Linked DNA regions of Homo sapiens: region 1 is linked to region 2. The links come from fine-mapping of genetic effects on gene expression. Tissue or cell type: liver. Region 2 holds a variant in brackets; the other region holds the start of a gene. All regions are shown on one strand. Distances are from middle to middle.

The links. PIP is the estimated chance that this variant, and not a neighbour inherited with it, causes the effect. A credible set is the group of variants that fine-mapping cannot tell apart.
Region 1: it holds the start of CTPS2, and the variant in region 2 is the best candidate, but not a certain one, in a credible set for the expression of CTPS2 in liver (GTEx, PIP 0.52).

What each region holds. Positions count from the first base shown.
Region 1 is chrX:16,710,244-16,714,481 of GRCh38, reverse strand. It overlaps CTPS2 (CTP synthase 2), which reads left to right and starts at 1,813. Exons shown (of 19, transcript NM_175859.3): 1 at 1,813-2,147. RefSeq lists silencers at 1,941-2,030, 2,091-2,360.
Region 2 is chrX:16,742,036-16,746,273 of GRCh38, reverse strand. It overlaps SYAP1 (synapse associated protein 1), which reads right to left. Exons shown (of 9, transcript NM_032796.4): 5 at 2,434-2,573. Among named protein-coding and RNA genes, the nearest start is that of SYAP1, 25 kb to the right of the region's middle. The variant C/T (reference allele first, on the strand shown) is at 2,239.

The sequences.
Region 1 (4,238 bases), 32 kb after region 2:
CTTCTCCCTTTCCTTGTCACAGTCATCTATTAGTTTCAGGCTCACTACCCACCCCGCAACCCCAATTCTCTAAAGTTCCTTGACCTCGATTGACTCCTCCACCTCCTGCCATCCTTTTGGGACCCTCGATGTCCAACATACCAGCCTTGTGGGCACTAAACCCAAGGCCAGTGATGCCCATCTCACTTTTCTATTCCATTGTAGCTGCCACACCCCAAACTGTCTCATTTCCTGGAATATCCATTTGAAGGCCTGAACTCCAGCACCACACTCTCTGCTGCCAGTTTGCCAGTCCTCTCCTCAGAGGCCCTGGCCTTGGAGCCCTTCTCTCATCTGTCTCCCAGTCCATCAGCTCCCCGCTGGTTTTATTAACAGTTCCTGTCCTCTAGGACTAGAGCTCTGGCCCATCACTGCAATCGCAGTCTTTCTGTGCCCTCCACCTCCTCACCCTCTTGTCCTTCTATTCTATGCAAGCAGGAAACTTGGGTTTCATAACTAAGAGCTATATTTCTGTAGATACCTTGCCAGATTATAGCAGATTATAGCTGGACACCACTACACGATGATGGTTTCTAAACTCCACTAGGTCTTCAGTGACTCTTGTCTAACTTGTCGCTCTAGCATCTCACACTGGTTATGCGAAATTTCCACCACTTTCCTAAAACCTTCCATCTCACTTCAGACCCTTCTGTTGTCCATGTTAGCTTCCTTCAGTGGTTGGCTTCTTGCCTTCACCCGAAAAACCTCCTGTATCCGTTCCCAGCACCAATCATCCTCCAATACTCTTTTTTTTTTTTTTTTTTGAGACAAAGTCTCCTCTGTCACCCAGGCTGGAGTGCAGTGGCCTGATCTCGGCTCACTGCAACCTCTGCCTCCCAGGTTCAAGCGATTCTCTCTGCCTCAGCCTTCGGAGTAGGTGGGATTACAGGCAGGTGCCACCACACCTGGCTAATTTTGCATTTTTAGTAGAGACAGGGTTACACCACGTTGGCCAGGCTGGTCTCGAACTCCCGACCTCAGGTGATCCGCCTGCCTTGGCCTCCCAAAGTGCTGGGATTACAGGCGTGAGTCACCCGAAGAGTGACTTTTTAGAGTATTTGGGCGGGGTGCAGTGGCTCAAGCCTGTAATCCCAGCATTTTGGGAGGCAAGGCAGGAGGATCAGCTGAGGTCGGGAGTTCGAGACCAGCCTGGCCAACGTGATGTAACCCCGTTTCTGTTAAAAATGCAAAATTAGCCGAGCTTTTTGGCATCCGCCTGTAATCCCAGCTACTCCGGGGGCTGAGGCAGGGACAATCGCTTGAACCCGGGAGGCGGAGGTTGCAGTGAGCCCAGATCGCGCCATTGCACTCCAGCCTGGGCAAAAAGGGCGAACGAAACTCCGTCTCAAAAAAAAAAAAAAAAAAAAAGTCACTCTTGGAAGCCTTAATTGCCTTCCTCCCCTCACTGCACCCCCGCAACTCTTTGCTGCAGAAGTATTGTTCTAGGGAACCTTACTGGTTCCAACAGACGGGTGGACCTCCCACCAGACTGTGAGCTAGCTCCTCAAAGGCAGGCATTCTCTTTCCTTTTCCTTCTCTCCTGAGCGCTCCTGCAGTTCCTGGGGCGTAGTAGGGGATCCACAAGCGTTTGTGACCAGTGAAGTTCTTTACAAGGGTGAGATCTGCACGGGAGGACCCGAGCGAGGGTCTCGGCTTGCCAGGAAGCCGGGGTTCCCCGGGAAGCGTGGAGTTCACCCGCGCACTCGAAGTGCCTTTGCAAAGTGAGCCACGGGAGGGAGGAGCGGTCCCCGGGCTGGGCGAGGCCTGGGGCCCAGTGCGTCCAGAGCGGAGGGTGACGGGAGCTGCCTGTGCTGGAGGAATCACTTTTTAGGCGCTTGTTTTGGACCATTGCACAAACCCGGGTGCAAACCCCAAGCTCACCAGCGTGAGTGAGCTGGGCCAGCAGCAGGGAGGAGAGGGGAAGGTGGGCGAGGAGGGCGCCGCGCACCCCGAGGCCCGTGTGGGCGGTGGGAAGATCCCGGGGGCGGCTTTGGACAGCCCCGGCAGCGACCCCTTCCCCAGCCCGACAGGTGAGCGCCAGGCCAGCCGCGGGGTGGAGCCCGCCGTGCCCACCGGCCACCCTCCCCGGTGCTACCACCACCGCGCAGGTAACTTCCCTTCTGGGCCTGTCCCAGACCCCCAGGGCCTCGGCGCCCGGGCCATCCCTCGTCCCCAGGGCCTCTCCGCCCTGCACCCCCAGCCCCGGTGCACTTGTGGGGCCGGGCTCCTTTGTCCGCTCTCTGATGGCGCCGGCTCCCTGCCCAGCGCTGAGTCGGGTCCGGCCGCCAGCCCCGCGCTCGCAGACCTCGGCTGCCGGGTGTGGCGCGGGGACTGGGGAACGCTGGCCCGTGCCCAGTGCGGTTGGAGCCTGTCCCGCGCGTCCCCGGGACGCGCTTCTTCCCGCCTCCGCCCGCGCCAGCGCCCGCACCCGGATCCCCACTTCTCCCGGCCCTCGGGAGCCAGGAGAGCCCTGAGATGGCGTTGGCGGAAGTGAAGCCCCGAGCGGGGGTCTGCGAGGCTGGTGATCAGCGCCGGTAACATGGCCTTTCTGTCCTCTCCCCGGTCCCAGTGCACCCCTTAAACAACGACCCCCGCGTTTTCCCCGTACTAGATGGTTAGGGCGCATAGTGCCGAACTACGCTGCTGCTACAGAATAGCTTTTTTGGGGGCAACATAAAAAAGAATTGTATGTATGGTTTATATACAACAAAATGTCCCATTTTCAGTGTGCAAATCGACGGGATTTGACAAATTATACACTCCTGTAACCATTATCCCAAAGTGAACATTGACCATTTCCTTCACCCTGCAAAGTTCCCTGGTACCTCCTTTCTGTCAATCCACCCCAGGCCCCGCACTCAACCCCGGTTCTGATTGTTATCATAGCTTAGCTTTGACTGTTCTAGAACTTCATAGAACAAGATCATCAGGTAAGTACTCTTTTGTGTCTAACATTACTTTTTAAATGGCCATCACTGAGAAGGTGTCTCTGGGTGCTTCCGGTGCTTTTATTTGCTCTAGGCCTGCCTGGTCTAATGTGGGAGCCACTGGTCACATGTGGTTATTGAATACTGGAAATGTGGCAAAATCCGTACTGAGATGTGCTCTGAGTACAGGCACCTGATTTCTGAAAGCTTAGTACACAAAAAAGATGTCAAATATCTCACTAATACATTCTTACATTGTGCGTTAAAAGTGATAACATTTTTGGCTACATTGGGTTAAATAACATATATTAACATGAACTTCATTTGATTCTTTTTACTTTTTTAATATGGCTACTAGAAACTTAAAATTACGTACCTGGCTGTGTAATATTTTTTATTAGGTAGTGGAGACAGCACAGCTCTACACTGTGCTATCCTATAAACACTTGGTTCTGCTCACTGCATGTAAGAGTAAATGAAAAACTTGTCTTGACACCAGAAACAATCCTCAATGGAGGAAGTGATCTAAAACAGGGCCAGCCTTTCCCTGAACCTTTGAAACTTTGTTAAACTTACTTGTGTGCTTAAAAGAAGTAGAGGGCCGGGCATGGTGGCTCATGCCTGTAATCCCAGCACTTTGGGAGGCCGAGGTGGGCGGATCACGAGGTCAAGAGATCAAGACCATCCTGGACAACATGGTGAAACCCTGTCTCTACTAAAGATACAAAAATTAGCTGGGAATGGTGGCATGCACCTGTAGTCCCAGCTACTTGGGAGGCTGAGGCAGGAGAATTGCTTGAACCCGGGAGGCGGAGGTTGCAGTGAGCCCAGATCGTGTCATTGCACTCCAGCCTGGTGACAGAGCGCGACTCCAACTCAAAACAACAACAACAACAACAAAGTAGGAAGAATTAGGTGTCCCCTTGGTATTAAGTTGCATTTTTACAAAAGGTCTCTAAAATATCCAAGGTGCTTTAAAAAGGTATCTTGTGTTTTTGAAAAAACAGAAAATGAGCAATTGCTTATGTAGGGGAGGAAAGAGCTGATATCATAAGGGTCACGGCTGACAGCCTTAAACAAGAGACAGATTAACAAGAGAGAAGCATAATAATTTATTGAATCATAGGTTTATGTGACATGGGAGCCTTCAGAAATGAAAACCCCTTAAAGATGCAAGGGAAATGATCTGATTTTATGCTTGGAGTCCATGAAGCAGGGACAGATGAGCTAATGGAAATAGACTGAGTGGGGAAACCCAGCAAAGCCTGTCCA
Region 2 (4,238 bases):
CAGAGTGAGATTCCATCTCAAAAAAAAAAAAAGAAAGAAAAAAGACAAAGTCTAAAGATGAAATTTCTAATGAGATTTTTTTTTTTTTTTTTTTTTGCCATAAAACATACTTTTCTTATGGGAGGGTTGGGGAGGGCTCTAGAAATTTACCACTAATATGTTAATAATTATGGAGGGAAGAGTTTCACTACAAAGAAAAAAAGATTCCATATAACTGTTATTCTGAGTCTGGAAGAACACTTCCAGAGTGGTGTTTTCACAGACAGAAAACCTGTGCTGCTGTGTGAACCAAAAGGCTAGCAAATATTTGTTAAAACCGCTATGTGGCTGGGTAAGCATAGCAAAACAAACATGTGTTCATCTGTGCTCCCTCTGAAGATGCCAGGAAAGTAACAGAAAAGGAATTACATACATAAAAACACAAGGACAAAGAGAATGAGAGAGGAGAGGACAGTGGACGCTGTCAAGGGCAGTCAAGTGGAAAGCTGTCAAGTGGAAATGTCAAGGGCAGACAGTAATCTTTTTTTTTTTTTTTTGGAGACAGAGTCTCACTCTGTCGCCCAGGTTGGAGTGCAAATGGTACGATCTTGGTGCACTGCAACCTCTGTCTGCCGGGTTCAAGCAATTCTCCTGCCTCAGCCTCCCGAGTAGCTGAGATTACAGGCATGTGCCACCACACCAGGCTCTAATTTTTTGTATTTTTTTTTTTTAAGTAGAAACAGGGTTTCACTATTTGCCCAGGCTGGTCTCAGACAATCTGCCTGCCTTGGCCTCCCAAAGTCCTGGAATTACAGGCATGAGCAACTGCACCCGGCCTAGGCAAACAGTAGTCTACTTCGTTGACCAGAGAAAACTGTACTGAGTTGTCTGCAGCAAGGGTGGAAGCCCAGAGAGCCCCTGGGCCTCCCATCTTGCCCTGCCCTGCTCTGCCCATGTGGGGAGGGGAGCCAAGCTGCTCTACACTCAGGGACCGGTGGCACAGTTGAGACTGGGGGTGTGACATCAAGGTCAAGCCACAGGGGTCAAGGGATAGTCTGCCTATCAACTGGCTCTTCCCATTGTCCTGCCTGCAGCCAGGCAGGAGGCCGAGGAGTCCTCTGGGGATAAGCTACCTTCCCACAGCTACTGAGCCTCTCCAGGCCAAAAGGCTTGTCCCCACATTCAGCGGCCATGTACCCTTTCAGTATGGCACTGCTAATGCGAAGGGACAGGTAAGGAGAGTCTGCCACATAAACGACAGATCCCCAAACAAACAAAAGAGTCCCGAGGGAGGAAACAGCATAGAAAAAGGAGTCTGTCTTTTATTTGAGACAGGGTCTCACTCTGTTGCCCAGGCTGGAATGCCAGTGGCGTGATCATGGCTCACTGCAGCGTCGACCTCCCAGGCTCAGGTGTTCCTCCCGCCTCAGCTTCCTGAGTAGCTAGGACTAAAGGTGCGCACCACTACGCCCGGCTAATTCTTGATTTCTTTGTAAAGATGGTGGTCTTGCTATGTTGCCCAGGCTGGTCTCGAACTCGGCCTCACATGATCCTCCCGCCTCAGCTTCCTGAGTAGCTGGGACTAAAGGTGCACACCACCACGCCCGGCTAATTCTTGGTTTCTTTGTAAAGATGGTGGTCTTGCTATGTTGCCCAGGCTGGTCTCGAACTCAACCTCACGTGATCCTCCCACCTCAGCCTCCCAAAGTGTTGAGATTACAGGCATTGGCCACCGCACCCAGCTGAAAAAGGAGTCTTTTGAGAGAACTGTAACTAACGTACTCAGGGAACAGTAAGATACTGCACCCATATGACAAGGTTAAGAGAAAGGGAACAATGACAGAATAAGAAGGAACGCTGACTCCAAACATGCGACAGCTTCAATACAAGGGACTGGACTGGAGAAGGCACGGAAGAGCTTGAGACAGAACACCCAAGGGAAGCAGCAGCGGGGAAGGTGGCCCCTGTTGGCCGCACCACCAAGGCAGGCTTCCAGAATGCATCATGCATGCACTGGAGCCTACAGGACAAGCTGGGATTTGTGGAGCCCAGAAGAGCTGTTGGAGGAAAAGCCTTAGCAAAGAGAGCAGGAACACTGCCACTGGAGGGCAGAGCCTGAATGGAAAATGCAGTCAGCTTGGAAAAAAGATCCCGATGAGCCTCAGAGACCAGAATGTGATTCAGGGTGATGCAGCATGTTTGTGGTTTCTGTAGGGAAATGTGTTCTACCTTGTAACTGGGATAGAAAAGCACATTTCA[C/T]CTCTACCCTGTATTTCCTGCCAAGTCAGACCTTGGTTTTGATTCCAGAGTGCCCTGACCAGGGGAGCTGCCAAAGGGCTGCGGGGCCTGCTTTTATGAACAGATAGAGACCCTTTTGGCCCCTTCCATCATTATGTGCTGATACTGAGCACATAATGGAGGCCATGAGGAAACGCTGGAGAACACTCTGCTTACAGTTTAGGAACGAGGGCAAATCTCATCTTGCTTAGCAGCTCATCCTCCTGGAGCATGACCAGGGCCACGGGGTACATCTGATCAAAGTCGAAATTAAATTGCACGCCAGCCGGAGGGTCACGAAGGAAATTCCTCTTGTCCTTTGATAAAAAAAGAAAAAAACACAGGGTATTCCACAAAATGCGATTAATAGATAACAATTTTTTTTTTTTTTTGAGACGGGTTGTCACCCAGGCTAGAGTGCAGTGGTGCAATCTCGGCTCACTGCAACCTCCACCTCCTGGATTCAAGCAATTCTCCTGCCTCAGTCTCCCGAGTAGCTGGGATTATAGGCACCCGCCACTGCGCCTGGCTAATTTTTGTATTTTTAGTAGAGATGGGGTTTCACTATCTTGGCCAGGCTGGTCTCAAACTCCTGACCTCGTGATCCACCTGCCTCGGCTTCCCAAAGTGCTGGGATTACAGGGGTGAGCCAATGCGCCCACTCTTTTTTTTTAATTTTATTTTTGTTTTGAGATGGAGTCTTGCTCTGTCGCCCAGGCTATAATGCAGTGGTGCAATCTCAGCTCACTGCAACCTCTGCCCCCTGGGTTCAAGCAATTCTCCTGCCTCAGCCTCCCGAGTAGCTGGGATTACAGGTGTGTGCTAGCACGCCTGGCTAATTTTTGTATTTTTACTAGAGATGGGGTTTCGCCATGTTGGCCAGGCTGGTCTCGAACTCCTGACCTCAAGTGATCCACCCACCTTGGCCTCCCAAAGTGCTGGGATTACAGGTGTGAGCCACTGCACCTGGCCTACTACATAACAATTTATCATAGACTGGGGAAATATTATATTCTTTCTTTATTTTGAGACAGTCTTGCTATGTTGACCAGCAGGAGTGCAGTGAGACTCTCAAAAAAAAAAAAAAAAAAAAAAAATAGAAGCGGACAGGGTGTAGTCGCTCATGGCTATAATCCAGCACTTTGGGAAGTTGGGCAAGAGGATCGCTTGAGGCCAGGAGTTCGAGACCAGCCTGGGAAACATAGTGAGAACCCATCTCTAAAAACAATTTTAAAAATTAGCTGGGCATGGTGGCTTACGCCTATCGTCCCAGATACTTGGAAGGCTAAGGCCGGAGGATCACTTGAGCCCAGTTCAAGGCTGCAGTGAGCCATAATTATGCCACTGTACTCTATCCTGGATGACCAATTGAGACTGTGTCTCTTAAAACAAAAACAAAACAAAACAAAACAAATTAAATTAAAAATTTTGGCAGCGCATGGTGGCTCACACCTGTAATCCCAGCACTTTGGGAGGCCAAGGCAGATGGACTGCTTGAGGTCAGGAGCTCGAGACCAGCCTGGCCAACATGGTGAAACCCTGTCTCTACTGAAAACACAAAAATTAGGCTGAGTGTGGTAGCTCACGCCTATAATCCCAGCACTTTGGGAGGCTGAGGTGAGGGTGGATCACGAGATCAGGAGTTCGAGACCAGTCTGGCCAACATGGTGAAACCCCGTCTCTACTCAAAATACAAAAATTAGCAGGGCGTGGTGGCGGGCACCTGTAATACCAGCTACTTGGGAGGCTGAGGCAAGAGAATCGCTTGAACCTGGGAGGAGAAGGTTGCAGTGAGCCGAGATCGTGCCACTGCGCTCCAGGCTGGGTGACAGAGCGAGACTTTGTCTCAAAAAAAAAAAAAAAAAAAAAAAAAACCACACAAAAATTAGCTGGGCATGGTGGCGCATGCCTGTAGTCCCAGCTATTCAGGAGGCTGAGGCAGGAGAATCATTTGAACCCGGGTGGTGGAGGTTGCAGTGAGC